Homo sapiens: one gene and its partners. The protein of the gene in region 1 interacts with the protein of each later gene in a pairwise test. Each region holds a gene or a part of one and is shown on either strand. Other genes may lie near its edges. The genes, in order: FRA10AC1, KASH5, MOB2 and ESS2.

Evidence for each region.
Region 2: the proteins of FRA10AC1 (region 1) and KASH5 interact in binary tests that used the Homo sapiens proteins (3 or more experiments, as listed by UniProt).
Region 3: the proteins of FRA10AC1 (region 1) and MOB2 interact in binary tests that used the Homo sapiens proteins (3 or more experiments, as listed by UniProt).
Region 4: the proteins of FRA10AC1 (region 1) and ESS2 interact in binary tests that used the Homo sapiens proteins (3 or more experiments, as listed by UniProt).

The regions. Positions count from the first base shown.
Region 1 is NC_000010.11:93,699,578-93,706,729, forward strand, and holds the start of FRA10AC1 (protein FRA10AC1), read right to left. Parts: upstream 3,016-7,152; 5' UTR 2,798-3,015; exon of another isoform or gene 2,597-2,797; intron 2,219-2,596; exon of another isoform or gene 2,099-2,218; intron 530-2,098; coding exon 453-529; intron 1-452. UniProt on the Homo sapiens protein: May be involved in pre-mRNA splicing.
Region 2 is NC_000019.10:49,391,249-49,398,267, reverse strand, and holds part of KASH5 (protein KASH5), read right to left. Parts: intron 4,923-7,019; exon of another isoform or gene 4,869-4,922; coding exon of another isoform or gene 4,868-4,868; exon of another isoform or gene 4,849-4,867; intron 4,792-4,848; exon of another isoform or gene 4,436-4,791; coding exon of another isoform or gene 4,411-4,435; intron 3,793-4,410; coding exon 3,688-3,792; intron 3,163-3,687; coding exon 2,976-3,162; intron 2,500-2,975; coding exon 2,435-2,499; intron 618-2,434; coding exon 551-617; intron 287-550; coding exon 125-286; intron 1-124. UniProt on the Homo sapiens protein: As a component of the LINC (LInker of Nucleoskeleton and Cytoskeleton) complex, involved in the connection between the nuclear lamina and the cytoskeleton.
Region 3 is NC_000011.10:1,483,769-1,491,745, forward strand, and holds the start of MOB2 (MOB kinase activator 2), read right to left. Parts: upstream 3,012-7,977; 5' UTR 2,789-3,011; coding exon 2,679-2,788; intron 1-2,678. UniProt on the Homo sapiens protein: Stimulates the autophosphorylation and kinase activity of STK38 and STK38L.
Region 4 is NC_000022.11:19,134,634-19,141,652, reverse strand, and holds part of ESS2 (splicing factor ESS-2 homolog), read left to right. Parts: intron 1-1,625; coding exon of another isoform or gene 1,626-1,628; coding exon 1,629-1,798; intron 1,799-1,923; coding exon 1,924-2,041; intron 2,042-2,360; coding exon 2,361-2,494; intron 2,495-3,173; coding exon of another isoform or gene 3,174-3,233; exon of another isoform or gene 3,234-3,335; coding exon 3,336-3,438; intron 3,439-4,220; coding exon 4,221-4,330; intron 4,331-4,706; exon of another isoform or gene 4,707-5,314; intron 5,315-5,393; exon of another isoform or gene 5,394-5,444; intron 5,445-6,477; coding exon 6,478-6,593; intron 6,594-7,019. UniProt on the Homo sapiens protein: May be involved in pre-mRNA splicing.

The DNA of each region.
Region 1 (7,152 bases):
CCGTGACCTTAGTCTGCTCATTCACGTATGCGTAAGAACTGTGCTGCATTATACTTTCATCCTCCATATTAACTTCACTTTGAAGGCAAGTAATGGCAAGAGACCACCATTCAAGCCCCTTCTGAGCTACAACATTTACAAATAAACAGTCCTTGACAGTTGAATGAAAAATATATGTAATGAAAAGGTTTCACTGATTTCTGAAAAGATTCCAGAAATCTGAAACTCTTCTTTCCCTTTCAATAAACCCCTTTGCAGAATTAATTTTTATTTTTCCCACAATTGTTCTCCAATTTTTAATCAATGTATTAGCTTAATGAACAAAAATTCATTCACTAGAGCAATTGTCTTCACATGTAAACAGAATTCAAAAATTTCACTCTTGTTTATTTATACTTCATATTAATCTAGAAAGGATGTGAAAAATAGATCAATAAAAAAAAATTACTTACCTTTTTTTCCTTTTGCTGGATTCTCCACAGCGTTCATCATCACTAAAATCAGAATCATAGCCTCCATGACCATGCATCTGTAAAGGAGTACAAAGTCAGCTATTTAGAATCTATGTTGCCAATTGTCCAGGAAACAATAATTCAAAAATAAGTTATCTTAAACAGCCACAATAGTTTTAAAGGATCATTGTGGGCAGATTCCTATTCACAGGCCATCTAGCCATCTAAAACTTTCATTCGCTTTTAAATAAGAGACATACCTTTCAGGAAATGCATCAACATTTTTCACCCTTAATTATCATTAGGTGAACAAAGAAGGCTACTCTTTGATCTTTTCACTGAAAAACCAGGCCTAAAAGCTGCAGTGACTGCTTACAAGGTTTAGCAATCCTTCACTTTTGATTCAGAGTAGTAATAATCACTGTGTGTTTATCACCAACTTTGTTCTAGACATTGTGTTAAATACTTTACAAACAACACTTCTAATTCTGCAAGTTAGAAAGTTATCTTCATTTAGGAATGAAGTAATCAAAGTTAAGTAAATCTATTTACAAATCCAGTAAGTGGCTAATCTGCTGTACTTGATTCCTGCGCCCACAATTTCAATTACTCCAAATTTCCTCTCTGGAATATGATTTACTATATTCCAGGAGAATTACAGTATTTGTGAACAGTACATCATCAATTGATGAAAATTTTCCTGTAATCTTTTTCAATATATGTAGAGATTTCCATTTTCTTTTGAGTTTCTTTAAGGTAAACCACCTTGCCCTTTGGATTAGTCAGCTTTCTCTTGTTTCATTTTATTTATCCAGTTATTTTTGGAGAGTCTCGCTCTATTGCTCAGGCTGGAGTGCTGTGGCGCCTTGATGGCTCACATCCTCAACCTCCTGGGCTCAATCAATCCTCCCACCTCAGCCTCTCCAAGTAGCTGAGACTACAGGAGTGCATAATCACACCTGGCAAACTTAAAAAAATTTTTTTTTTGTAGATAAGGGGTTTCGCCATGTTGCCCACGCCGGTCTCAAACTCCTGGGCTTGAGCAATCCGTCCACCTCAGCATCCCAAAATGCTGGGACTTCATTTTAGAACTGAAATTCTTAGAAATGCTGGAAGACCTCAGTTGCCACTCAATTGTATTGGAAGAAGCTCCTAGTTCCAGCTTTGCACTGAATTTGGAACACACACTAAGAAGGAAGGATGGACTATTTGATGTCATACATAACTAATTTACATGGCTGGAAGGAACAGTCCAGGTTAAATGATATATCAAATTGTTAAAACTAATATAACGACAGCAAGTGCAGCTGGAAAAAGAGGAAAGAACTCTCTAAACTTCATTGCATTGGATCTAGGGTAAACGACATGTTTCTAGTCCTGGCTACCTTGAATAAGTCATTTCATCTCCCTGGACTTCATCTATTAAATAAGATAGCTACATGAAATAATCTTTAAGTTGTTTAAATCTTTAAATAACCTTTAAAGTCTGTAATTCCATTTTCAAACATAGGTGTGTGGGTATATACCTCTCTTCTCTGCCCCACTAAAATCCTAGATAGGAAGATGCTAGTTAAGGTTGGAGATGAAGGTTTGAAAGCCCGAGTTCCAACTCTACCCTCCCTTACATCTGTTATTGCCTTACACACCTGGATTTTACACCCTTTTTTAGGTCAACTCCAGCTGTCTTACCACATCTGTTCAAGCCATATTGTCCTCTCACTCTTTGTCCTATGTCCTCACGTTCTTTACATCTTGATGGGGGACAGCTGTAGTGTGTTTAGAGATATATTCTAGGATCAGCCTACTAGATTTCACTGCTTGGCTCTGCACTTTCCATTTGTCTTTCTTTGGGCCTGTTCCTTAACCTCTCCAAGCCTCAGTGTCCTCATTTATAAAAAGAGGCTAGTAAGATGGCTGACCTCATACGAATGGAGATTAAAAGAGTTGCCTCATCTAAAGGGTTTTAACGGTGTCTTGTACAGTGAAACCCAGTAAATGTTACATCATCATCATCATCTTTTCCCTCGCCCCAGGACACGACTTCCTATTCTTGCTCCCACTCTCCCATTTCTTTATTCGCTGGCCGCTCCATCCGACCCATACCTATCTTAACTCACTGGTTGAACTAAAAAGCTCTCACTCACTTCAGGCCTACGAATCAACTGACAAGAGCGGGGAGAAACTCAAAAACGGAGATGCCAGGTGTCTCCAGAATCTGTCATCCAAAAAAAAAAAAACCAAACCAAAACAAAAAAAAACCCGACGATCAGCTAGTACTATATGAAAAACAAGTTTTGAGGTCCTTCTCCCTGATGCCAAATATACCCACAGCCCTCCTCACACACCCTTTCCCTTCCTCCCTGTGTGCCAAGTTCGCCCCCGGAGTCGTCGTTTCCTTCTTTCCCGGCAGCTGCAGCGACGACCCACGGCCTGAGAGAGCCGCTGCAGCACAGGTCCCGTGCGCCCTGCCGCACAGCCTCGCCACAACCACCACCGCCGCCGCCGCCGCCGCCGCCGCCCGCAACCCGCCTCTCCCTACGGGTCCCGACTGGGCACCACTTCCGGTCCGACACGGCCACGTGTTACATCTAAATGGCACCGTCCCCCGAGTGCGCCGACCTTGTGCTACAGCCAGAACAGCTCCGGGAAACAAGGGCAGCGGGAGAAACGGCCCGGAAAGGGACGAAGAGGCTTCCAGCTTTCGCCAAGTCGCGGCTCCCAGTTTTTCCCTGGGCCTCCTTCCTTTCCCCTCTAGGGAATCCGGCATCTAGTACCGCTGGCACTGCTTGCTGCTTAGCCCACGCCTCTCATTTGAAAATATATTTTGTTTTACCGTGCCTATCACCTGCCGTCCTCTCTCTAGTAACCTTAGTAACGCCTCCTCGGAGGATCCTCTCAGAGCAGCTCATCAGCGCTTCAGATCAGCCTCTCCCTCCTTCCCCCAGTAAAACAGTTCTCATAATTAGAACAAAAATATCTCTCCATCGTTTCGCCACCCACACAATAGATACCATTCCAAAAGCAGTGCTGATGGCAGAAGAGCTCATCGAATTTGTGAGGAAAGAAAGAATAGGAGGAGAGATTTCTCAGGGTTGAGGATTCTCTGCCGACAAGCGACCTGGCACATGCGAAAAGGGATCCAAAATAGAATCTTAAAAAGAAGAAGAAAAAAGGCAGGAAAAGTTGGATTATTTTAAGCGCCACTAGGTTCTTCCTGTGCTTTGCGTTTTCTACATCACGACGCCCCACTCTTTCCACTCTAGTTGTTTGGTTCATGTCTTGTCTCTCGCTGGCATTAGCAGCTATTCATTTTTTGCTTCCTCCTCAGTACCCAAAACGGTGCCTTGGAAATCACAAGTGCTAATTAAATATTTGTTGAATTGAACTGGCACGCTTCTGGCGTTTACAGTGGGCCCTTTTTAGAGAAAACCTTGGCACTTAATGCACAGTCATTTTACATCTTTTGCCCTAAACAGTAGATAACGATATCCTTATCAGTTCAAGTCTCTAACCCTGACAATAAATTATAGATACATTCTGCTTTATCCATTGCACTGAATGTGATCTTAAAAGGCTATAAGATAAATTAAATTATTGTAAATTAACTTATTCCAAAATGCAATCAGATTATACTTCAATAAAAACTTTTACTAAAAAAAGTGAAAGCAATAGGAAGCCTTACAATTTGACGTTATAGTATATGGAATTATTTTGTCAAGCAGTTTCTTTTTTGGTAAATATATTAAATATATAATTATTTTATTGTTAATAAAACTAAACAGACCTATACCTCATATCCAATTTCCTTTCTATCCATATTTGACATTTATTAGCATTTTTCTACCATCCCTAGCATCTTCTTGTTTGTTGCTTCATTTTACTCTTCCAACAACCCTGTGCTGCTGTGTTATTAGCCTCATTTTACACATAAGGAAGAGAGGCACAGAACCTAAAGCCACAAACCTGGTGAGGGTCGAGAACTGGGTAGTACTTGTGTCTGTCTCTCTATAAGACCCAGTTTCTCTCTCTCTCTTTCTCTCTTTTCTCTCTCTCTCTCTGTCTCTCTCTCCCCCACTTCATGGATTGTGTGGGAAGTAGCTTCTGGTTCCAACATTTCTAAGAATTTCAGATCTGTTGCTACCAGTCCATTCAGGCAAAGATTTCCATTTTTTACTTTGAGACAGCAGTTACTGAAAAAGAGTAAATAGAAAATATATATTAGGCATAGATTGCATGATCTGAACTAGAAATAATACAGGATAGAAAACCCACCTGCTTAGGAAATCTCAAGTTAACAATTATAGCTCAACAACAATAAAAAACACAAACATTTATTCAGTGCCTACTCTGGGCAGGACACTGCCCTAGACATCAGGGTTACAGGTATGTAACAGCAACTCCTTATCCTTGAAGGTTGACTAGTAAGACAGACAATGTGTGGAATAACTACAACAATATATTCTATCATATACCAAGTGTCTAGTACATGCATGAACCTGTTGTTCCTAATTTATAAAATATGTTATTTCAATGGATATGAAAATTTAAATGTGCACCAATGCTATGTAACTCAAAGCAACAAAATACTATATTAAGTATGTGGTCAGGATGAGGGAAGTTGGGTGATGATGGTGGTGATAATACCAAGTAATAATTCTGATATAAACTATGACTGTGCATTCTTTTTTATTCAAGACCGAGTCTCACTCTGTCACCCAGGCTGGAGTGTAGTGGCGTGATCTCAGCTCACTCCAACCCCTGCCTCCTGGGTTCGAGCAATTCTCCTGTCTCAGCCTCCCGAGTAGCTGGGACTAGAGGCGCACACTACGCCCGGCTAATTTTTGTATTTTTTTACTAGAGATGGGGTTTCACCATGTTGGTCAGGCTGGTCTCGAACTCCTGACCTCAGGTGATCCACCCACCTTGGTCTCCCAAAGTGCTGGACTTACAGGCGTAAGCCACCGCGCCCAACAAATGTGCATTCTTTCTTTTCTTTTCTTTTTTTTTTTTTTGAGACAGGGTCTCACTTCATCACCCAGGCTGAAGTATAGTGGTGCCATCTCAGCTCAACCTCCACCTCCCGGGTTCAAGCCATTCTCCTGCTTCAGCCTTCCCAGTAGCTGGGACTACAGGTGTGAGCCACCATGCCTGGCTAATTTTTGTATTTTTAGTAGAGGCAGGGTTTCACCATGTTGGCCAGGCTGGTCTCGAACTCCTGACCTCAAGTGATCCCGCCTTGGCCTCCTAAAGTGCTGGGATTACAGGGGTGAGCCACTGCGCCTGGCTGAATATGCATTCTTCTAATACTGTGTGTCTTTGAGAAGATTGCATTTTCCATGTTCTTTTTATAATATGATGCTGACACTTCTCTAACATAAGCTAATACCTATGGCCACAGCTTTGAATCTGGGCATGTCAGTGACTATAGCAGAAGTAATGCTAAGACACTTCTGATGCTAAGTTGCAAAAGGTGTTAGAGCTTCTGCCTGGGTTTGTCACTCTACTTCTTTAGCTGACATGGAGTGGAGCAGAGATGAAGTAACTTCACTGAGCCTCACCCAGATTGCAGACTAATAATCAGAATAAGTATAATTGTTTCAAGCCACTAAGACTTTGAGGTTGTTTGTTATATACCGATAAATATCCAGAACCATCTGCTGTCTCACTTAACCTCCATAACATTTGATGTTATGGAGCCACGCTGGGCTTTCTTTGTTTCTTCAACATGCATGCCTCTTCAAATTTACCATTTCCTCTACCCGGAATGGTCTTAAACCCTTTCTGTTTGCCTCCCTAACTCCTCTTTATCCTTCAAAACTCAACTTAGGTGAAGGAAAGGCCTTTCATGAGCATCTCTCCCACAGACTAGATAGGATTACTGATAATATGCACATTACTTTCCATTGCACTTAGCTACATACGTAGTAATAATTTAGCCCTGTTTCCCTCACTGAGATGCAAGCTCCACAATGGCAGGAAGCATACCTCTCTTTTTCAGTGTGGAATCCCCAGTGCTCAGCACAGTGCCAGACACATGATAGTTGCTCAGAATATTTATTGAACAAATGAAGTGGGTACTATTATTATCCCTATTTTACAATAAGAAAACAGATTTTTTTAAAAAAATTATATAACACTTCCAGAGTCATGAGTAAGCAAATGGGGCACAAATATAAGTGACTTCAAAGCTCACACCATATATATGTGTGTGTGTGTGTGATATGGTTTGGCTCTGTGTCCCCAGCCAAATCTTATGTTGAATTGTAATCCCCAATGTTAGAGGTGGGGCCTAATGGGAGGTGATTGGATCATGGGGGTGGTTTCTAATGGTTTACCACCATCTCCCTAGTGCTGTCTTGTGATAGAATTTTCAAGAAATCTGGTTGTTTAAAAGTGTGTAACACCTCCCTCTTTGCTCTCTTTCTCCTACTCCTGCCATGTAAGACATGTCTGCTTCCTCTTCACCTTCCACTACGATTGTAAATTTCCTGAAGCCTCCCCAGCCGTGCTTCTTGTGCAGCCTGTAGAACTGCGAGTGAATTAAACCTCTTTTCTTTACAAATTACCCAGTCCCAGGTAGTTCTTTATAGCAATGTGAGTACTAATACTAAATATATACATATATATATACACACACACATATATGTATATATAGAGAGAGATAAGTAGAGAGAGAGTGTTATCTCTCTGTTGCCCAGGC
Region 2 (7,019 bases), on another chromosome or scaffold:
AAGAAAGGACAGGTACAGAGTCAAAGAGCAGGATGCAGACACGAGCATGGGAGATAGAGGCCGGCTGCTGCAGGGAGGACGGAGGCAGGGGCGCTGGGGAGGGTGGGTGTGGCATCCAGCCCACCTGTGAAGCTGCTTACGCAGAGCCAAGATCTCCTCCCCAAGGCGTGCTGACCCCTCCTCAGCTGTCTCCATGCTCCGCTGCAATTTGGCATTCTCCCCAACCAGACGTCGGTTGCTGAGCTCCAGGTCCTCCAGGCTGCTCAGCAGGTCAGCTGTGGCTTGTCTAGGGGCAAGGAAGGGGTTCAGGTCACTGTCCACAGCCCCTGACTCATTTCCCCGGGTCGAGGTAGGTGCTGGTGGTGGGGAGATGTGGCTCTTTTGGGGAAAGATAAACAGGAGAGAGACTCCTCTGCTCTCCCTGAACTTTCAGCAAAGCCCCGTCCCTCATTCATTTCCCTGAAGGATCCCAAGCCCTACCCGGGCCTCGGCAGGCTGGAGGGGACAGGGTGTGGGCAGGAGGGTCAGGGAGGGGTGTGAGGATAGGTACAGCTCGGGTCTGGGGTCTTCGCCTCCGAAGCTCTCCAGGTTGGCTGGCTCCTCAGCTTCTGGGCATCCTGGAGGGAGAGAGCCAAGAGAATGTTGGCTTCCCTGGAACCCTTAAACGTAAAGTGCCCCAGGGCTCTGAGGTTGGACTCCATCTGCCTCCACCCTCACCTGTGCTCTGGAGAATCTCATGGGCTTTTGGGGCTGCAGTTATACCCACTGTAAAGCCCTCTTGCTTGTCTTCTACCTTGAGCTCAGGCTGGATCTCCCAGATAACCCTAACTCCCCACATTCTTTACACCCAACACTGGGCAGCACTTCACCTTCCCCTTCCCAGATCCCCCACCGACCACTCAGCCACTGGGCGGACCTGGCTCCCTTGCTCCCTGTCACCCCCAGTCCAGCAGAGCCCAGACTTCTCCCTCCTGCCCCTGACTCTCTGCTCCACCCCTCCTCTCTGTCTCCATGCCCCGGCCCTTGCTTTCTCCTCTTGGATCCTCACCAGAGCCTCTTCTCTGGCCTTCTGGCCTCTAGTCCCTCCTCTGCTTGCAGCCCTCCCTGGGCCCCCAAGCCTGATGAAGGAGGTTGAAGAGAACTTCCTTCCCCACCGTTTTTTGTATGGCTAGAGAAATGGAACATGACCACCATTTTTTTTTTTTTTTTTTAAAAGACAGGATCCTGCTCTATTGCCCAGGCTGGAGTGCAGTGGTGCAATGCATGGCTCACTGCAGCTTTGACCTTTCAGGCTCAAGCGATCCTCCTGACTCAGTGTCCCGGCTAGGACCACAGGTACATGCCACCGCACTCAGCTAATTTTTTATTTTTAGTAGAGATGGTGTCTCACTATGTTGCCCAGGCTGGTCTCAAACTACTGGGCTCAAATGTTCTTTCCACTTTGGCCTTCTAAAATGCTGGGATTACAGGCTCACGCCTGTAATCATGACCACTTTTTTTATGGAGCACCTCCTATGTGTGAGGTCCTGGGGATACAATGGTGAGCAAACCAGCCAACTAAACCCAGGTGCCAGTGGCTAACTAGATAATCAGATTTCCTCTGCAGGTGGATGTTCCAATGGAAAGGCCTACAAGTCTAGGAGTGAGCATGGGGAGCAAGGAACTCTAGCCAGGGGCATACCAGGGCTTCCCCTTTGCCAGAGGAGTGGATGACGGCTTGGCGCAGTGGCTCACGCCTGTAATCCCAGCACTTTGGGAGGCCAAGGCAGTTGGATCACCTGAGGTCGGGAGTTCGAGACCAGCCTGACCAACATGGAGAAACCTCGTCTCTATGAAAAATACAAAATTAGCTGGGCGTGGTGGTGCATGCCTGTAATCCCAGCTATGCGGAAGGCTGAGGCAGAAGAACTGCTTGAACCCAGGAGGCGGGGGTGGCGGTGAGCTGAGATTGCGCCATTGCACAACAGCCTGGGCAACAGGAGTGAAACTCTTATCTCAAAAAAAAAAAAAAAAAAAAAAAAAAAGTCCAGCAGGGTGGGGAGCAAGGAGTGGAGGGGAACAGCCTGAGCAAGGACCTGTGCTGGGCAGAAGTGGGGCACATTCGAGGAAGGGCAGCAAGACCAGTGGGCCTGTGAATTCCTGGACTAGAGTGAGGAGAGGTGATGTTAATGATGGAGCAGAGGTAGGCGGGGCCTCGTAGGCCTCTCTAATAGGGCTGGTGTGAGGAGAACGAGTTGGAAACCACCCTCTGAAGAAAAGAAACCCAAAGCTCACGGAAGGAAGGGACGGAGGACCTAGAAAGCCACACTCACAGCTCTAGTCTACAGTAAAGGTCCCTGGTTCCTACCCTATCCCTTGCTCTGCCCTGGGTGGTAAGTCCCCACACTGTCTGACCCAGGGCCTGCCTGCTTCATTCTATATATAGCAATCTCACCAGATGGCAGTTGCCGGGAGGTCAGGGCTCCCTGGAAGGCGGTCTCCTCTTCCAGCTCTAATCCCCTGTATCAAAGGGATGAGGCTTAGCGCCCCACTGTAGCTGCCCCTCAGTCCTCACCAGCCACAGGCAGGGGGATTGCAGGTGGGAGGAGGGGACCGGGTCAGGTGAGAGCTGGCACCACAGGGTAGGAGGGTGAGGCCAGATGGCAAGTGCCCGTGGCCAGATGGAAAAGCAGGAGGGGCAAGGAGTGGGTTTGGTGAAGGGTTGGGGAGGGACCTCTGTCAGCCCCAAACTCCTCCCTTCTCCAGCCCCATTTTATTTCTGTCTCCCAGACCCCCTCTGCTTCCTCATCCAAATTATTTTGTCCTCAGACTCCCTATCTACCCCCTCTGAATCCCGTCTCTTCATTTTTCTCTCCACAGCCTCATTCCAAACACAGTAGGTCCTTGGGCCTAAAGGATGCTGGCTCCAGTAAGCAGGTATGAGGTTAGATCTTAGGAAGGACTTCCCAGAGGAGGATGAAGATGTGGGGACTCACCCATGTAGTTGACAGGCAGCAATCCAGTCACGCATGACAACCAGGAAAGTGTCCAAGTCCACAGTGGCCTTAGGGCCCTCCCCATTGGGGTCCAGGCTGTTGGCCAATGTTTGGAGGCGTGCATCCTGGGGGCCCTGGCCTGTCACAGCCTCCAGGTAGGCCAGCACCTGGGCCACAGCCACAGTGCCTGTGACAGAGCATGCAGTGAGGGGGTCTGGGGCAGGTGGGGAGTGATGGGTATGGACTGGCAGCAGCTTGGGACCAGGATGTCACTGGCTAGGCTGGTGGCACTCCTGCTCCATGGCCCAGTGGAGACACACTGGGCAAGCCCTTTCCCCTCCTCTGAGTCCACTTTTTCACCTGGAAATGGGGCCCAGTCATCCCCCCATCACAGGGTAAACCAAAGGGGATGGACATAGGGACAGCATCAGCCATGCCCCACGCCACCATGGTGGCTGCCTCCCTCCCCTATCCCACGACCCCAAAACTCTGCCCTCTTCCATCAACGTCCCCCAAGTTTTCCTCATTCTAAAAGGCCTTCACCCCATTATCCACGTTCTTCTTCCTGAAGCTTCCCATAATCACCCACTTTGTTCTTACAATACCCCCAAGAGGGGGCCTTAGCCCAGTCTTCTCTCTGAGGCTCCCCAGTTCCCAGCCTCCACCCCATCCTGCCCGCACTGGTCCCCAGCACCCCTCATGCCCCCACCACCTGTCCTCTGAGGGTCACAAGCTTCGAACGTGGAGTTGAGTATTTGCTCCTCCAAGCTGACCGGCATTCCCAGCCTTGCCTCCTCAGGCCGCTCCCGGAGGTACACTGGGGAGACAAGAGGGCTCAGCTCACCAGTGGGAAGAATAAGGAAGGAAGAGGGGTGACCCCAGGTCCTCAGCCTCCTGGGCTCTGTAGCGGGGAGGGAATTCACTCAGAGCACTGAGAGTTCGGGCGGGTGGGGAACAGCAGGAAGCTTCAGGAGGGGGCAACAATGTGAGGGTCTCTGAGTTACTTCCCCCCATCTTTCAAACCAGGAAGTCCCCCCTGCTGTCTTTTTGTGTCCAATTGGCTTAGGAGCCCAGAGAAGAACGCTCTGAGATCACCCTTTCCTCCTCTCCTCTCCAGCCTCCCAGGCTGGACTCAGAGAGGGACAGGGTCGGGGAGGGCAAAGAAGAGAGGATTCTGGGAGGAGCTGAGAGTGAAGGGGGGGCCCAGGAGCCAGGAACAATCCAATAATGCATGGGCAGCCCAGATCGATCCCGCCTGCTGCATCTCCGGTCTCCCAGCCCACCCTGGGGACCAGGTCTCTCTCCTCCCTGCATCCCTAAGGCAAGGGTGGCATCATTGGAGCCCATGGCCAGGGGCTGAGACATGAAGGGATAGGGTAAACCAGACAGGGTGGGCAGTGAGGGAATGGTTATGAGCTGGATCAGTGTGTCAGACCTGGGTGCAGAGTCCAGCTGCACATCTGTGGGCAAGTCTCTTCTGTTAGAGCCTCGGTTTCCCTACTGGGGGGGTGGGTAGAGTGATCCTCCTCACCAGGGCTGAGTTAGCTCTGTGTATGTGAAGCACACGCATGTACACACACACACACACACACACACACACACACACACACGTCCTGGGGTCTATTTGTCTACTGTTGTAGCCACAACACCTGCAGATGGCAGGTGCTCAACAAATGCTCCATGACATAGGAAGAGATCCTCAACTGCAGGAGCCACTGGGCTGGCCCAGCCTCTCTCCCAGGGCTGGAAGTGAACTTCTAGGCTCCCTGCCCTGGCCTTGAACAGCTGGGTGCAGCAGCTCACTGAGCACAGGCTGCAGGACGGGGTAGATCCAGGGGGCAACCGAGGCTTGGCCTCAGACAAGTGGTGGCACCTGGGGCAATGGACTCAACTTCTCTTGGGCCTCAGTTTCTTCCTCTGGAAAATGGGGTTGGTGTTACCTCTTTCCTAGAGAGAAAATGAGATACAATCTAGAAAGGCTTTGGCAGAAGGCCTGGCACGTGGTGGGGACTCAAGAATAGAATTGAACACTTATTGAGCATTTAGTAGGTGCCAGGCCTTTTCTGAGCACTTTACATGAACTGTCTACTAGCATAATAATAATCGATGCTATTATAATCCCTACTTTACAAATGAGGGGACTAAGGCATAGAGAAACTAAGAACTCGCCAAAGGTCACCCTGTTTAACATATGAGTCAACTTTCTCATCCCTCTAACTCTTCCAGGATTCTCTGCAGTGAGTGAAATTTGCACCCCCTCTGTCTTGAACCTATGCTCCTAGGTTTGGCCCTTGGGAAGGGGCGTGTGGACTCACAGTTAGGGGGAGACCAGGGCTTTAGCCCCAGTCTGTTTTCCTCCTCTCACTGTTTTTTTTTTTTTTGAGATGGAGTCTCGCTGTGTCACCCAGGCTGGAGTGCAGTAGCGTGATCTCCGCTCACTGCAACTTCTGCCTCCAAGGTTCAAGCAATTCTCCTGCGTCAGCCTCCCGAGTAGCTGGGATTACAGGTGCCTGCTACCAGGCCCAGCTAATTTTTGTATTTTTAGTAGAGATGGGGTTTCACCCTGTTGGCAAGGCTGGTCTCGAACTCCTGACCTCAAGTGATCCGCCCACCTTGGCCTCGCAAAGTGCTGGGATTACAGGTGTGAGCCACCATACCCAGCCCTCTCAGTGTCTTTCTCATGTTACATGAACGAGGACCCTGAGGCCCAATGAGATGGTTCACCCAGGGCTGCTTGCCAGAGAGAGCTAAGCTGGGAATAGAACTCAGGACTGGCATCAGGTCGTGCTGGCTCTGAGGATCAGCATGTGTCTGAAGTCGCATCCCAGGATTCCCCCAGGGAGATGTCATTTCTGTTCCTCAGGAAGATCTCCTTCCTCAGTGTCTCTATCTCCTCTATGTCTCTGTCCTTGCCTCTTCGTTACATTTCTCTTTGGCTCTTTCTCTCTATCTTTCTCCCAGTCTCTCTTCCCCACGTCCTGTCTCTCTGCCTCCATGTCGCTTGTCCCCGTTTTCTTCCCTGTATCTCAGTCTCTGTGCTTCCCTTCCCATATCTCAGAGACTCTCCATTCCCTAAGTCTTCTCTTTCCTTCCTCTGCTGTTTCTTTTTCCCTTTGCCTTCCTCTGTCTCCATCTCTCCTTCTGGGTGTGTTCCTACCTTTCCTTCCAGAGCCTCTCGAAGCTGTCTCAGCCCTTGCCACCCGGATCCTGGTGGCTGCACGCCCTCTGCTGGTGCAGGTGAAGTTTAGATGGCTGTCACTAGACAGCCTGTCCTCTGGTTCCCACACCCTGGTGTCTACCTCTGACCCTCCTATCTGGAAAGCCTCCTGAGGTCTGGGGCTTTGTAGAAAAAGACGCAGGCTGTGCCGTGGATGCCTGGGAGCCTCTAAGAAAGGGGCCCTACCATCCCCATCAGACTGGGCTCTCTCACTTGGCAGATGAGTTTCAGAGAGGCAACCCCAGTGCCTCCTCCCCACCCTCTGAAGCCAGCTTTCACACCCGTTCAACCTACATCCGTCCGTTCACTCAACAGTAAGTGAGCTCCCACAGTGAGTCAGGAGTTGCTCTGGGGTCCCAGCCAACAGGGCAGTCTCTCCTTCTGGAGCACCTGAACTGAGGCGAGTGTAGACTGAAATGCTCTGTTAGTGTAAAGTACACGCTAGATCTTTAGGGCTTAGTATGAAAAAAACAGATTATCTGGATACATTTTTTATATTGGCTATATATTGGCTATATACATATATATATCTCTATGTATGTATATCCTGTATACATATATAATATACAGGGTATTAGTCTGGCTATATAAGGAAAATCCATTATCAACATTCATTTCACCTGTTCCTTTTTTCTTTTAAAAAATAATAAATTACCTATGTGGCTCATATTATACTTCCACAGGACAGCGCTGCTCTAGGGACTGGGAATACCAGAGTGAATAAAACAGACGCTGCCTTGTGGAGCTCATGCTCTAGCAGGGGAGACAGAGACAAAACATGACATACAGATGTGAGCACTGTGAAGAGAAATGAAGCGGGGCAGGGG
Region 3 (7,977 bases), on another chromosome or scaffold:
TCCTTGGCACCCAGCACGTAACTGATCCCTACTGGGAAGTGAGGCAATCCCTGCTAGACACAAATTTGGTGGGCAAGGGAAGGGGCACAGGGAGGCATCAGAGCTGCTGGGCTCCCGTGGAAAACTTAGACAACCACACAGTCAACACACAGGGGGTCTCACCCTGCCCACAGCAGGTGCACACTGCTTCACAGGCAGGGGGAGCTGGGGAGTGGGCTGGGAGCCGCCCACTCCTCATCCGCCCTGAGGGACGAGGACAGCACAACCGAGTGCCCTGCACCTTTGCCACGAGTGTCAACTTCATTATCACAGGGATGGAATCCTGGCCAGGCCCCACGGCCCACAGGAATGGGGTGCTCCAGGCTCAGAGACCCCCACTCGCCCAGAGCACGCTTGCTATGGAAGTCGAGCCTGTAGACCCTGAGGTGAGTGGGCAGCAGCAGGAGGTGGCCCTCATCTGGCACTTCCCACCACAGGTCAACGCCAAGGGGTGGGGCAGGCACGAGGGGCCCAGAAATACAAGTCCCCAAGCCCAGGCCTGGAAAATACGGTGACCAGGCAGCGTGTGGGGTGCAGGAGAAAGGCCCGCAGGTGACGCCTCTGAGGAGGGCATGGTCCTTGGACCCCACTCAGCCATCTGCACCGGGCCCCTCATGCTCCTTGGTTCGGGTGAATGTCAGTGCTGGTTGGTCCACCCAGAGCCTGAAAGTCAAGGCTCCCAGTGACCCCTTCCCCCAAGACCCGGCCAGGCAGAGCCCCCAGTAGCCACCCGGTACAGAGCCTGGGTCTCAGCACACCTTGCTGCCCAGGGTGCACGCCACGGGCACCTCCTGTCACCCCAACATGCAGGGAGGGCACCACATGCTGGGGTGCTTGGCGCCACCCCCACCCCTACATTTCTGATGTGGCCTTCTGGGTGTTGAGGGGGGGCCTGAAAACTGCATTTCTAACACCGTGTTCTAACCCGAGTTCTCCCTGGGTGCTGATCCCACTTCTGTCACACGGCCTCAGGCTGAGGGGTGGGAAGGCCTCCGGAGCCCCTGTCCATCTCTCAGCACAGCCTGCACTGCCCACAGGCTTCAGCCAGCTGGAAGCTGTGGAGTGTGGCTTCTTTTCTTCTGAGTTTAATTGTCTGCCCCCCCAAACAGGTCAGCAGCCCCAGACAAAGCGAGCTTTTACCAGCCTACTGTGCCCTCTGCAGAGGCCCATTGAGAAGGAAAAAGCCAAGATGGCACAAGGAACGCCCGCAGACATCCCAGACCAAACGTCCAAACAGGCAGGTGCTGCTGCTGTCCTAGAACCTCAGCCCCACGTGGCCACCATGCTCCACTGCGCCTCGGCCCCTCCATGCATCCAGCTCCCAGCCAAGGTGGCTTCCTCATCGCTTCCTTTGAAACCTTCCTGAGCCCCAGGGAAGGGACTCCGCCCGTCTTCCTTAGGGCCTGGCTGGGCTCCAGGCCTGCCTCTGTGTCTCCTGTGGAGCTGCCTTCGGCATTTGGCCTCAGACACACAAGCACACACTGGCACAGGCACACACACACACACGCCAGTCCCCTCACACCACTGATGTCAGGCACCATTCCTGATTTGAACTCACGAGTACTGCCAACTTGCCCACACATTTCCAAAACCTCACAGTTTCACCTTAAGATAGGACATCCTAGGCAGGGTCACCGGCCGGCACTCTTGTGTCTACTTGTGGAGCCCTCCCTGTTGAATGCACAGGTGATCGGGAGATAGGGAAGGAGCCTATGAAGAGAAAGATGGAGCCGGGTGCCCAGGGACAGGCAGAGGCACGGAGATGCACACGGGTGCCGCAGCCCCCGGCCCTTGGAGGGCACGTCCAGCAGGCCACGCTCGCCTCACACCCCCACCAGGCAACCCCACCCGGGAGGACACACTCACTGCTGCAGCTGGCTGTGCCTGCCCCACTCCCCCGGCCCCTCATGCCCACACACGGGTGCACACTCCCACACACACGGGTGCACGCTCCCACACACTTGGGCGCACACTCCCACACACGCCCCTGCACACACCGAGCTGAGTGGTGTGGGCAGGGAGGCACCCCCGCAGCAGGTCAGAGAAAGTACAGGTGAGAAAAATGTCAAAAATGGATTTTCCGGCAACATCCCTATGGCAGCCAGCACAAAAATAGGCACCCGGGAACCCCATGCCACTTCTCTGGACAAGGCCACACAAGGACAGACTCCGGGTCACCTCTGCCTGGGTGGCTGAAGCCCCTGCCCAGGGCACAAACAGCCGCACGCTGGGACAAAGACAGGCACACCTGCTGGCGGCTGAGGAACCACACCCTGTGGGTTGCGGGAGGACAAGGCAGGCTCCTGTGCCGGCAAGGTGGGGTCAACCCCGAAGGTCGAGGACACCAAGACCCGCTCCTCTCCCACAGAGCAACAGGAAGTGCAGGCGGCTAAGGAAAGCCCCACTGGGCAGGGCTCCAGAGCAAACCCGCCAGGCTGGCCCGGGACTGCACAGCCGCCTCTGCCCTGGACAGCTTGCGTGTGGCCCAGCACAGCTCGCTGCACAGCCGCCGGCCACACTGGGAGGGCAGCCACGGACACAGTCCGCCGCCTCCCCACCCTGACCTCCTTCCTGGGGGCAAGAACAGGGCAGACAGATGTGCTACACACCCCTCCCCCAGCCAGGCTGGCAGGTGTTACCTGAGCACTTTGCTGACAGCCTGAAGCACCATTTTGCAGCAGAGTCCACTTTGCAGGGACTGGCCGGGCCGGGCTTGGTCTTCAGGGAGACTGCAGTGGTCTCCCAGCATGAGTGGGCGACGGGAAGGTGGGGAGGAGAAGCGGGGCGGGGTGCCGGCTGGCCAGCACTCGCAAATGCCTGCTGCCGGGCCCTCCAGCCTCACTCCCTGGCCAATGGGACGCCTGGCAGAGACAAACAGCTGCCCCCTTTCCAGAGGCAAGGGCTGGCCAAGGCTGGTGAAACGAGGGAGCGTCTGAATTGGCCTTTTCCAAGTGGCATGGCTGCCAGAAGAGGCGGTGGGGGTGGGACCAGAAGGGAGGGGACAGGGCCGTCCTTGGCCTGCAAGAAGGGTCCATCAGAAAGGTCCTGGGCTCCACCTCAGGCTGCCAGAAGAGGCGGTGGGGGTGGGACCAGAAGGGAGGGGACAGGGCCGTCCTTGGCCTGCAAGAAGGATCCATCAGAAAGGTCCTGGGCTCCACCTCAGGCTGCCAGAAGAGGCGGTGGGGGTGGGACCAGAAGGGAGGGGACAGGGCCGTCCTTGGCCTGCAAGAAGGATCCATCAGAAAGGTCCTGGGCTCCACCTCAAGGTCCTCTGCTGCCAAGCCCCCAGGAAAGGCCTTCTGAACACAGGCAGCAACTCTGCTGACGAGCTCCAGGTCGATGGCACTCCCCTCTCCCTTGTCCGGCCCAGCCTAGCCCAGTCAGTGCTCGGGCCAGGGACGGACAGACGGACAGACAGATGGGCCGCCCTGCCCTGCAGTGTGTACGCAGCTGGAGGCACTCAAAGTGGCTTTCCTGCTGGATGGCCCTGGAGAGAGAAGGGGCCGACCAGCTTCTGCGGTGCCTGGACGGTGCTGGGCTGAGGCTGCTGCCAGCCAGGACCACAGGGCACCCAGCCCAACAGAAATGCCCACAGCAGCTCCCCATGGGGGCGCACAGAGCGGCACGGCCCCGGCCTTCCTTCTGGCTGGTCTGCACACAGGAGACCACCACATCCTGAAAATGCAAACACCTGAGAGGGCAATGCTCTCTCCTCATCCTGAGTCAGCGTGGACCCCACTGGCAGTGACAGCCCCCTGACAACACGGGGTCATCAGGAGCATCCCCCACCCGCATGGGAGCCATACTTCCTGTGCTTCCTGCCAATCAAGAGACCCCAGCATCTCCAGCCACTGCCCCTCAGAAGCTGTCCCAGCACCTCTGTCGGTGTGAAGCCCTGTAGGAGTCAGGACACAGCCTGAGGTACCAGCTGCTGCGGGGAGCACAGAGCCATCAGGAAAGCAGCCAGGGTAGGCTCACCCCCATCAATACCAGCCCCCATGGGAGTTGTGGTGTCTGGACTGCACGCACACACACAGCCTGGGCGCACGGGGAGACAGCACACCAACCCAGCACAGACACACTCTCCAGGAGCCACAGCAGAGGATGGCCCCAGGCCGGCCCCCGCCTCCCTAAGCAGCAGCAGCAGCAGGCCCAACAGGCTGCAGTTTCATTTTCCCCACTAGGCCAGTCCCTAAGCCATGCTCTGAGCAGTGCGTAACTGGTCTCTACAGAACAAACAGCCCGGTGAGGCTCAGGACGTCCATGCGCCCACAGGCCTTCCTCTGCCTTGGCAAGGCCATCCCACAGCCCTGTGGTGCCACACGCACCTAGGCACCGTGCTCACGGCTGCCGGTCTGCCCTCGGGGGCTCCACCAACAGCAGGGACACAGGTGCTGGCAGGTCACCCAAGTGGCAAAGGGAGCCACAGGAAGAGCGGGCTCCAGGCCTGGGGAGGCCCCCGTGAGTAGCAGGGCTGGGACCAGGAGGTGCATGACGCAGACCTGCCCACTCTCGGGAGGCATGGCCTGGACAGAGAAGGCCGTGCAGAGGCCCATGACAGGGAGAATGAGCTGCTGGGGGTTGGAGGGCAGAGCATAAAGGAAGCTGGGGATGGTGGAGGCTTCGGGCACAAGAAGCCAGGCAACCAGGCAAGGCAATGGTGAGGGTGGCACGGGGGCGGGGGAACAGTCAGGACAAGGTGCCGGGTAGGGTGGGGGGAGCACACCAAGCGTGCCTAGTCTGGTCCAGGCAAGGCAGTGGTGAGGGTGGCACGGGGGCGGGGGAACAGTCAAGACAAGGTGCCCGGTAGGGTGGGGGAGCACACCAAGTGTGCCCAGTGGGTCTGGTCAGCACACGGCAGCTCTGTGGCTTATGCCACTGTCCCGAGAGGGCTGGGCTGGCGCCAGAGGAACGTCCACATTCATCTGTGTTTGTTCACTGGGGGACACGTGCAGGGAGCAGGTATTCCTATTGATCAAAACTTAGGTAGTGGGGCAGGAGTGGGGTAGGGTGAGGGGCAGCTGGAACCCACAGACACTGAGCGACAGACACTGCACTGGGAAGAGGAGCAGACCTGGAGCAGGCTCTGCAGACTCCACGAGGAGCTGCCACAGAGGCCCGCAGGCCAGTGACGGGTGCCAGTGTGGCCTGGCCCCGCCACCCCAGAAAAGGAAGAGCAAAAGCACCTTCTGGGCACAGCCAGGGCCAGGAGCTGGCCAGGAACAGAGAGCACAGGAGCGGGGCAGAGGCACCACGCAGGGGGGAACGGTCGCAACCAAGGCGGGACGGGGCAGGGGGCACGGGCCATGTGTCTGTGTCAGAGGTTATTTTACCTTTAATAAGCTTTTAGTTTTAGAAAAGTGTTAGATTTACAAAGAACTGCAAACACAGAATCCCCATGGCCCCCCACTCACTCTTCCTATTGCTAACCCTTACACTAGGATGGTCTGTTTGTTAACAATGAACAAATCCACATTGATGCAGCAAGGTCCAAACTTGACTCAGACGTCTGGATCCATCCATTGCTCTCCTCACGACGAGGCTGGGCTGTGGGTGTGGGTAGGAAGAGCACAGAGGGAAATGTCCCCCTCGTCGCCCCGTGCCCACGGCCCGTCCTGTCAGCACGGCTCATCGCGGGAGGTGCTCCCGATCTCCTGGCTGAGGCTGTGACTGCCAGGCCTCCCCACGCAAAGACGCTCTCGTCTTCCCCGCCCCGCACCGCGCTCTCGAACGAAGCTGCTGCACGCAGACCACACTGAAGGGGTGGGGACCACCCCTTACCACCCTGACGGAGGAGTAGCTACGGGAATTACTGGAAGTTCGGCACCAGAGAGCGGCCTCTTCTTGGTCACTCATTTATATATTCAGCCATTTGTTTATATTGGGATGAAGTCCTGGCTATTGAGGCTGCACTCCGAGCTAGAACACAACACTACTTTGTTTTGTGAATCACACTGTCCGTCCTTGGCCCTGGGGAGCTCCTGCCATCAGCTGCTGGGTCCCCTGATGCACCCCCATCAACAGACTTTTCATTTTGGGGCATGTCCTGATTTCCTGGCACTGCAGGGTGCTCCAGGCTCCCCCTGCATTCCCAGCCCCAGCCCGGGAATCAGCCCCTTCTCCAAGGAGCCCTGGTTCTTTTCATTAGAAAATATTAAAAACTGGCCAGGCAGCCGGGCGTGGTGGCTCACGCCTGTAATCCCAGCACTTTGGGAGGCCAAGACGGGCCTCCCACAAGGTCAGGATCACAAGGTCAGGAGATCGAGACCATCCGAGCTAACACAGTGAAACTCTGTCTCTACTAAAAATACAAAAAAATCAGCCGGGTGTGGTGGCAGGCGCCTGTAGTCCCAGCTACTCGGGAGGCGGAAGCAGGAGAATGGCGTGAACCCGAGAGGCAGAGCTTGCAGTGAGCTGAGATCGCACCACTGCACTCCAGCCTGGGCGACAGAGCAAGACTCCGTCTCAAAAAAAAAAAAAAAAAAAAAAATGGCCAGGCATGGTGGCTCATGCCTGTAATCCCAGTATTTTGGGAGGCCAAGAAGGGACCATCACTTGAGCCCAAGAGTTTGAGACCAGCCTGGGCAATAAAGGGAGACCCCATCTCTACAAAAAATGTAAAAATTAGCCAGGCATAGTGGTGTGTGTCTGTGTTCCCAGCTACATGGGAGGCTGAGGCAGGAGGATCACTTGAGCCCAAGAGATTGAGGCTGCTGTGACCCATAATCACACCACTGCACTCCAGCCTGGGTGACGGAGCGAGACCCTGCCCCAAAACAGTAATGAATGAATTCAAAACTGAGACCTGGTCAGGCACGTTGATTCACATCTGGAATCTCAAGAGCACTTTGAGAGGCCCAGGTAAGTGAATCGCTTGAGGCCAGGAGTTTCAGATCAGCCTGGGCAACACAGCAAGACCCCCATTTCTAAAACAATTTTTTTTTTTTAATTATCTGGGCATAGTGGCATGTGCCTGTGGTTTCAACAACTGAGGAGCTGAAGTGAGAGGATCACTTGAGCCCAGGAGGTTGGTGGCTGCAGTGAACCATGACTACACCACCTCACTCCAGCCTGGGTCTACACAAACGAGAAACGAAAACACTAAGATCAGAGCACTGGGTGGGCTCGTTGCTAGTGGGTGTCACTGCTTCCAGGCCCTCTCAGCTGGAAGAACACGGAGGCACATGTGTATACACACATGCACTCATACGCCTCAATCTCCACCCACATGTCGACATTTGTATCTATACTAAGCTAAGCAGGGGTTCCCCTGAGGTCTCCAGCCCACCCCTGCAGCCATCACTGCCTGGACCACACTGGCCCCTCCACTTGCTCGTCTGTAGCCTCCCCTCCAACAAGGAGACTCGTGGAGAGCTTCGTGTTTTTAATCACTTTGTGAAAACAACAGAAGAAGGAGCTCAAAAGCTACGGAAGCAGCAAAACAATGCCCCCGGCACCCTCACAAAGGCACAGGGAAAGTGGGGTCACTTAAAAGCAAGCAGGAAAGTTTCACAGTTGAGTCCAATGAAAATCAAGAAGAATAGAGGAGAGTAACACTCTCCCACTGACAATTAAAACATCCCAGAAAGACACACACATAACACAGACGAAATCACACAACACAGATGAAGACACACAACACAGACGAAGACATACACATAACACAGGCAGAGACACACAACACAGACGAAGACATACATATAACACAGGCGGAGACACACAACACAGACAAAGACACACAACACAGACGAAGATATACAACACAGCCGAAGACACACACATAACACAGGTGAAGACACACAACACAGACGAAGACACACAACACAGACGAAGACACAACACAGATGAAGACACACACATTAACACAGGTGAAGACACACAACACAGGTGAAGACATACAACAGATGAAGACGCACAACACAGACGAAGACACGCGCA
Region 4 (7,019 bases), on another chromosome or scaffold:
ATCCCTTGCACAAGAGCAGAAGCTTTGTTTTGCTTTCATCTGTATGCTCCGTGTTGGGAACAGCACATGTGGTGTTGTGGGCCTTGCACAGATACACATGGAACAGATGAAAGAGTTGTCATCTTCAGCATGTTTGCTGGGACACACAGCTCTATATGGTAACATCGTGACTTGATGGGGGAGTCGGTTTAGGAAAGGGCACTCCGAGTCCTGTTGAATGCAAGTGTTCTGCACGCCATGGGACTTCTGCGTTGTCAGGCCCTCTTTTCATCAGTAGTAGAATGTCAGTGCATGTATAGACAAACGAGACACTCTTTCTTATCAGTTTGTAGACTCCACTGTGCTGGAGTAGCACAGATGTGTTGTGTGTTTGCACAAACATGCAAACATGATACTTTTTGCTTTACAATCCAGCTTTTTCGGCCATTAACACAGTCCTTGTTGTCCTTGAAGCTTGATTATCTGTTGAAATGTAGCTTGTGCATCACAGGGCAATTTGTAGATTTTTTTCTTCTCCTTTTTTTTTTTTTTCCTATAGAGATGAGGTTTCATTATGTTGCCCAGGCTGGTTTTAAACTTCTGAGCTCAAGTGATCCTCCCACCTTGGCCTCCCGAAGTGCTAGGATTACAAGTGTGAGCCATCATGCCTAGCCAGTTTGCAGATTTTCAATACCTGTACACCTACATGCCAGTAAATATAGGAATCCTTTTCAGAACCTAAGTGGTAGGAACCATCATCATGTTTACAGGTGAGGAAACTGAGGCTCAGAAAGGCAGTCACTTCTGCAGGTCTCAGAGATGGTCAGGGTTTCACTTCTTATCTCTCTGAGATGAATAGAGTTTCTGACCCCTGTCCTCATCCCGTGGGTCTTGAGCTTGTAGCCACTGTGCCTTGTGCATAGCCTCACGTGTAGCAGGTGGTCAGGACTGTCACTAGACTTGAAGGCAGAGCTCTCCAGGTGGCCCCACCGAAGTTTGCACCACCACACGCAGCACCAGGGCACCACCTCAGTGGGAGTACCACTTTCCATGGTGGCAGGGTTGGTCGGAGGGGGGGGTGTTTGGGGTTGTGGCTTAGCACCTGTGAGGCCCCATCCAGAGGACTAAGTCATATGAGATCCCTGGAATTGGGGCTCGCTCTCAGGTCAGGATGATTAGGCGATGACCACCCACCTGTAGTACAGGTACCAGGAAGAGAAGAGTGGGTAAGGTAAGGAAATCCTAGGGAGTGAGGGAGAGCCCCAGGGATTTGGAGGCCTGGCACCCACAGGCCTGGCACCACTTTGGTGGGGGAGGAGCCTGCCTGTGATCACGAGCTCTTGCTCTAACACCTGTATTGCTTTCTCCAGTCTGAATCAGACCACGTAATTCCCTTGGCATCCAGCACATGAGCAGAGCTGGCCCTGAATCTGTAGGGTACCACCTGAGGGCTCTCTGGGCAGTCAGGGTGGGTGGATTCTGCCCCCGTGGGGAGTCCTTGGCAGTGTGGGCTTTCATGGGCAGAAGCCAGGACCAGGGGAGAGGATTCCAGCCCTGCATGTTGGGGGCTATGATTCCTGGGCCTGGGTGTCCTCCTCTTTCCTGACTGCAAAGGGTGCTGTGTTCCTCCTCCCGCAACCCCTAAGCAGGAGAGGCTGGAGAGGAGGAGGAGAAGGAGCCGCTGCCCAGCCTAGATGTCTTCCTGAGCCGCTACACGAGTGAGGACAATGCCTCCTTCCAGGAGATCATGGAGGTGGCCAAGGAGAGAAGCCGGGCACGCCACGCTTGGCTCTACCAGGCTGAGGAAGAGTTTGAGAAGGTGTCTCTGGGGTCTGGGGTGTCACATAGGCGTAGGCACCCTCTGTGGTGGTTGGGGAGCCCCAGGGCCATGGGTACAATGCCCAGGGGCATCTCTGACCATCACTTTTCCCCATGTGATTGCAGAGGCAGAAAGATAATCTCGAACTCCCGTCAGCAGAGCACCAGGCCATCGAGAGCAGCCAGGCCAGTGTGGAGACCTGGAAGTACAAGGCCAAGAATTCCCTCATGTACTATCCAGAGGGTAAGTGGCGGGCCTCGCAGCCAAATGGGGAGGTGTTGGGTAGAGCTGTGTGTGTCTGGCTGTGTTTGGAGCAGCCTTCCAGGTGTGTATGGCCGTGCCCCCTTGCAGTTTGGGCTTCTGATGGGTACTGGTCTGTCTAAGGGTGGACAGGTCTGTGTGAGGTCAGCAGTGAGTGAGACCCTCTCCAGCGGCACTGGGGCCTGCGTTCTGCTCAATGCTTTTGTTCATCTGGGAGTGACTTGGCCGAGAAGCGAGCTCCTCATGCTCCTTAGGCTGCTGCCCTTCTGACACCTGCTGCTACCTTTGCTTCGTCTGCCAGGTGTCCCTGACGAGGAGCAGCTGTTTAAGAAGCCCCGGCAGGTGGTACATAAGAACACGCGCTTCCTTAGGGACCCCTTCAGCCAAGCCCTGAGCAGGTGCCAGCTCCAGCAGGCAGCCGCCCTCAATGCCCAGGTGAGCAGGCGGGTCAGCAGGGCCGCATGGGCCAGGTTGGACAGGGCTGCCTGGGGGCAGGCATGATCTCTCCCATCTCTTTGAGCTTGGCAGAGCTCAGTGAGTGGAACCATCTGGGGCCCTGTGCGGCAGGATCCTGAGTCTTTCCTTGGCCCCAGTGGGCTTCCATTGAACACTGCCTTGGTCACACACGTTCTGTAGGTCCAGATCTGTGCCAGCTCCCTTGATGGCAGGGGCAGGAGAGAAAAGGGACTGCTGGGAGTGAGCCCAGGCTGGCAGCTGCACGCCCACACACCGGGCAGGGAAGCCAGAGAGCCGCAGAGGGAGCCCAGCCCCAGGGGGTGGCTGGGGTGGGACAGGCCCTGGGTTGGCAGAGAGCAGAGGCTTTCTGAGTCTGGGAGCAAGACGAGTAGATACTCTCTGATGGTGACTGTGGCAGTCACAGGGTTGAAGTGGGGAAGGCAGGAAGAGACTAGAGCATAAGCATTGCCTGTCATCAGCATTGCCTGTCATCAGCATTGCCCCCTGCAGGGGCCTGGCGTCAGCATCCTCTGGAGTTGCTGGGATAGGCGCAGCTCGAGTGGAGGCCCTGGCACCTCCCTGGATGGGAGGAGGGGGCTTTCCTTGCTTGGGTACCCACTTTGACAGGCCCTCAAGGTCTTTTGGGGGGTTGGGGCAGGGGCCCTCCCTCTCTTTCTCCAAGAAGGCTGCCAACCCCAGAGCCCCAGCCTTGCCCTGAGGAGAGGAAGTGTTTCCAGCATGTTCCCACGTGTTTGCCCACCGGCCAGCTGTCGAGCGTGGGCTGCGGTCCCCCTGATGCCAGCCTCTCTGCTTGTTCCAGCACAAACAGGGCAAGGTGGGCCCCGATGGCAAGGAGCTGATCCCCCAGGAGTCCCCTCGAGTGGGTGGATTTGGATTTGTTGCCACTCCTTCCCCTGCCCCTGGTGAGAAAAGTGCCCACTGGCAAGTGGGTCTACTGCTGGGACTCCCTGGGGGAGGTGGGCTTCTCAGTCGGCCCTGGCCACTCCTGGCCTCTACCTGGCCTGCCCCACACCTTGTGTAACTCAGGGACCTGGTCTCCTGTCTGTACAAGGCCCTAGAGGCCAGGTGTCCAGGCTGCTTGGGGCCGTGGGTGGGCTGGACTCTCAGGCAGACCTGGCCTGAGACATCCTGGGATGACGTGTCCTGTCCTGGTCCTTACTGTGATGTCAGTGGGTGGGGGTGTGTGCACAGTGCTTATGAGTCTAAGTCTACCTAGCACTGCAGGGAGGGAGGCCCAGCACCTCAGTGGAGGTGAAACTCAGGTGGTCTTGTGGCATGCGTGGGTGTCCCTCTGCACTCTGGCCTCTGTGCTCTTGGGTGCTGGTGCTGTGTCACACGCCAGGGCATGTGAAGGCACCACAGGTTTGCCTGGGGTTCTAGGAGGTTTGGGAGCCCTGGAAGGCCTGAGTGTCTCCTCCTGCGTGGCTGGGGGAGACCTCCCAGAGGCTTGTAGGCTAAGCACATGGCTGTAGGGCCTTGAGCCTGCCTCGGGCCTGCTGGGAGCTTGGCATTTCCCTTTCGGAGGATGGAGGTGCCAGGGTTCCAGAGTCCTGGGGAAGGAGAGAGGGCTAGCTGCCTGCCTTCGTATTAGCTGGGATGCACATTGGGTGAACAAGCTGTGACTGGAGGGGAGGGTGGTGGGGAGTCCTCTGGCCTGAGGTGGTTTTGGGCTCTTTGTCTGCAGGTGTGAACGAGTCCCCGATGATGACCTGGGGGGAGGTTGAGAACACACCCTTGAGAGTTGAAGGGTCGGAAACGCCCTACGTGGACAGGACACCCGGCCCAGCTTTTAAGGTGGGTTGTGGTGATGGGGGAACTGTGTGCGACCGGGGTGGACACCTCTGGAGCCCTGAGTGCCTGTGGCTCAGGACTGAGCACTGGGATCGGCCCCCAGCTGCTGACGGGCAGAGTGCTGGCTTTTCTGAATGCCAGGGTGCTGAAGGCAGGTGTGGGTGGGTGGACCTGTCACAGAGGGATTTGGGGGTGTAAGGGCTGAGACACCAAGGCAGGGAGTGGCTTGGGCCCTCTGGATCCTGGAGGCCGGGTGCTGTTCATGAATGAGGCAGGATGGTCACAGACACGTGAGGAGCTCTGCAGGCCTGAGGGCCATAGGACGAGGCTGTGTGCTTGTAGAGAAGGCCCCTGGTTACAGAACACGATTGGGACACGCTGGATTACACGGCTCAAGCCTGGTGTTGTAGGAGTGGTCAGGGTGGAGTGTGTGAGGCCCGGCACAGACCAGGGGAGGCTCTTCGTGGGCTGGGTCAGATACAACAGGCCTCCCCATACCACTGCGGGCCTTTCCCCAGAATACTTAGTACAGGTAACCCATGTCCAGACAAAACATGGGGAGAGGTTCTGGTTACCTTGGTTCTAAATTGTCTGGGACACAAGGATAACCAAGGCAAACGTGCGAGAGGGATAATGAAGAGGATGCCGTGCTGTCCAATGTGAGAGCGCAAGGCAAGGGCTGAGGTGCTTCTGAGGTATGCCTGCCACTGCTTCCCGAGTCTCCAGGCCAACAGTAAACAGATAAATTCTGAAACAAACCATGATCCAAGTCAGAATTTGGGGCCCGATAAAGATGGCAACTCAGATTGCACTGAATAGCAGAGTATTTAGAAATGAAGGGAGCTGGGTCCTCAGGATGTGTAGCAGCATACATTGTGGAAAGGTGAAAAGGTTACATGTAAAAACAATAACCATAAAACAACCAGAAGAAAATAGTGGCGAATATTTAGTTTGATTTTTGGGTTCAAGTGATTCTCCTGCCTCAACCTCCCAAGTAACTGGGACTAGAAAATAGTGGCGAATATTTAGTTTGATTTTTGGGTTCAAGTGATTCTCCTGCCTCAACCTCCCAAGTAACTGGGACTACAGGCGCGTGCCACCACGCCCGGCTTATTTTTGTATTTTTAGTAGAGATGGGGTTTCACCATGTTGGCCAGACTGGTCTCGAACTCCTTGGCCAGACTGGTTTCGAACTCCTGACCTCGTGATCCACCCACCTCAGCCTCCCAAAGTGCTGGGATTACAGGCGTGAGCCACTGTGCCTCGCCTCTTTTTTTTTTTTTTTTTTTTTTTTAACAGATAGGGTTTCACTCTGTTGCCCAGGCTGGAGAACAGTGGTGCAATCATAGCTGATTGTAACATTGAGCTCCTGGGCTCAAATGACCTTCCAGCCTCAGCCTCCTGTGTAGCTGGGACTAACAGCATACACCACCATGCCCAGCTAATTTTGTGTGTGTGTGTGTAGAAATGAGGTCTTGTCATTTTGCTCAGGCTGGTCTCCAATGCCTGAGCTCAAGTGATCCTCCCACCTTGGCCTCCCAAAGTGCTGAGGTTCCAGGTGTGAGCCACCACTCCCAGCCTGTAGTCTAATCTTAAGTTAGGAGGGACTTTCTAAACATAAAAGCAAAGGAAGAAATCACAAATGAAAATAACAAATACAGCAGAAAATGTTATAAATGAAACAAATGTAAATGAGTGAAAAAACATGTGCACAGCGTAGCACAGTTGACTTGACACAAGGTCTTGGCAAGGGTCTTCTGAGTAACAGCAGCAGAAAAGGAAAATGAGCCCCTTGAGAGCAAAATAGGCCACAGGCACACGGGGAAGCGCCCGAAATACAGAGCGCCGATAAAGACAGAGATGTTCACTCTGATAATCAGGGAAACACTAAAACAGACTGCTTTTTCCTGAGAGATTGTCAGAGGTCATGGTTTTGGGAGGAACACGAAGACAGGTGAGGAGTGCTGCGCCTTGGGCAGGTCAGGTGGGGTTTGGGGCTTTCCAGGGGCTTTTAGTGGGAGGTGATGGGTTGTGGGGGTTTTGTAGGCAACAAAGAGAGGCTGGCACCCACCACAGTGGCTTTCTGTGTGAGGGGCTGCCTGGCGTGTGGCAGGCCTGGCGCAGCTACCCACACACCTGCTACCTTGTAGATCCTGGAGCCAGGCCGCAGGGAGCGGCTGGGTCTGAAGATGGCCAACGAGGCCGCTGCCAAGAACCGGGCCAAGAAGCAGGAAGCCTTGCGGAGAGTGACGGAGAATCTGGCCAGGTGAGGGGCCGCCTGGCTGGTGGGGAAGTGCGAGGGTGGCTCTGGCCTGCTCCTGTTCGGCCCCTGCCCTGACCGTGTGGAGGCATGGCCCACGCGGCAGAGTCCAGGGCAGGTCCGCGGGGTTCTGCAGTGGGTACTGTGGCAGCTCCTCTATCCAGAGCATGGCCGCACATGGACAGGATGAGAGGCCCCCTCCATCTTCTCTTTCCTCCACGTCCTCTTTGACCCGTCCCTAAGAGGCATCTTTAGGCGTGTGGTCCTGCTGGGAGCTTTCATCAGCCCTGTGGAGAGAGTCATCGTTCCCCTTGGAGAGGGGTGGGGACTCCAACTCTCAGAGGCCTGGGGGTGCACCCCAGCCCCCACAGCCAAGGGCGGTGCTGCTGTTTGACCTCAGGTTTGACCTGAGCGCTGCTGTTTGACCTCAGG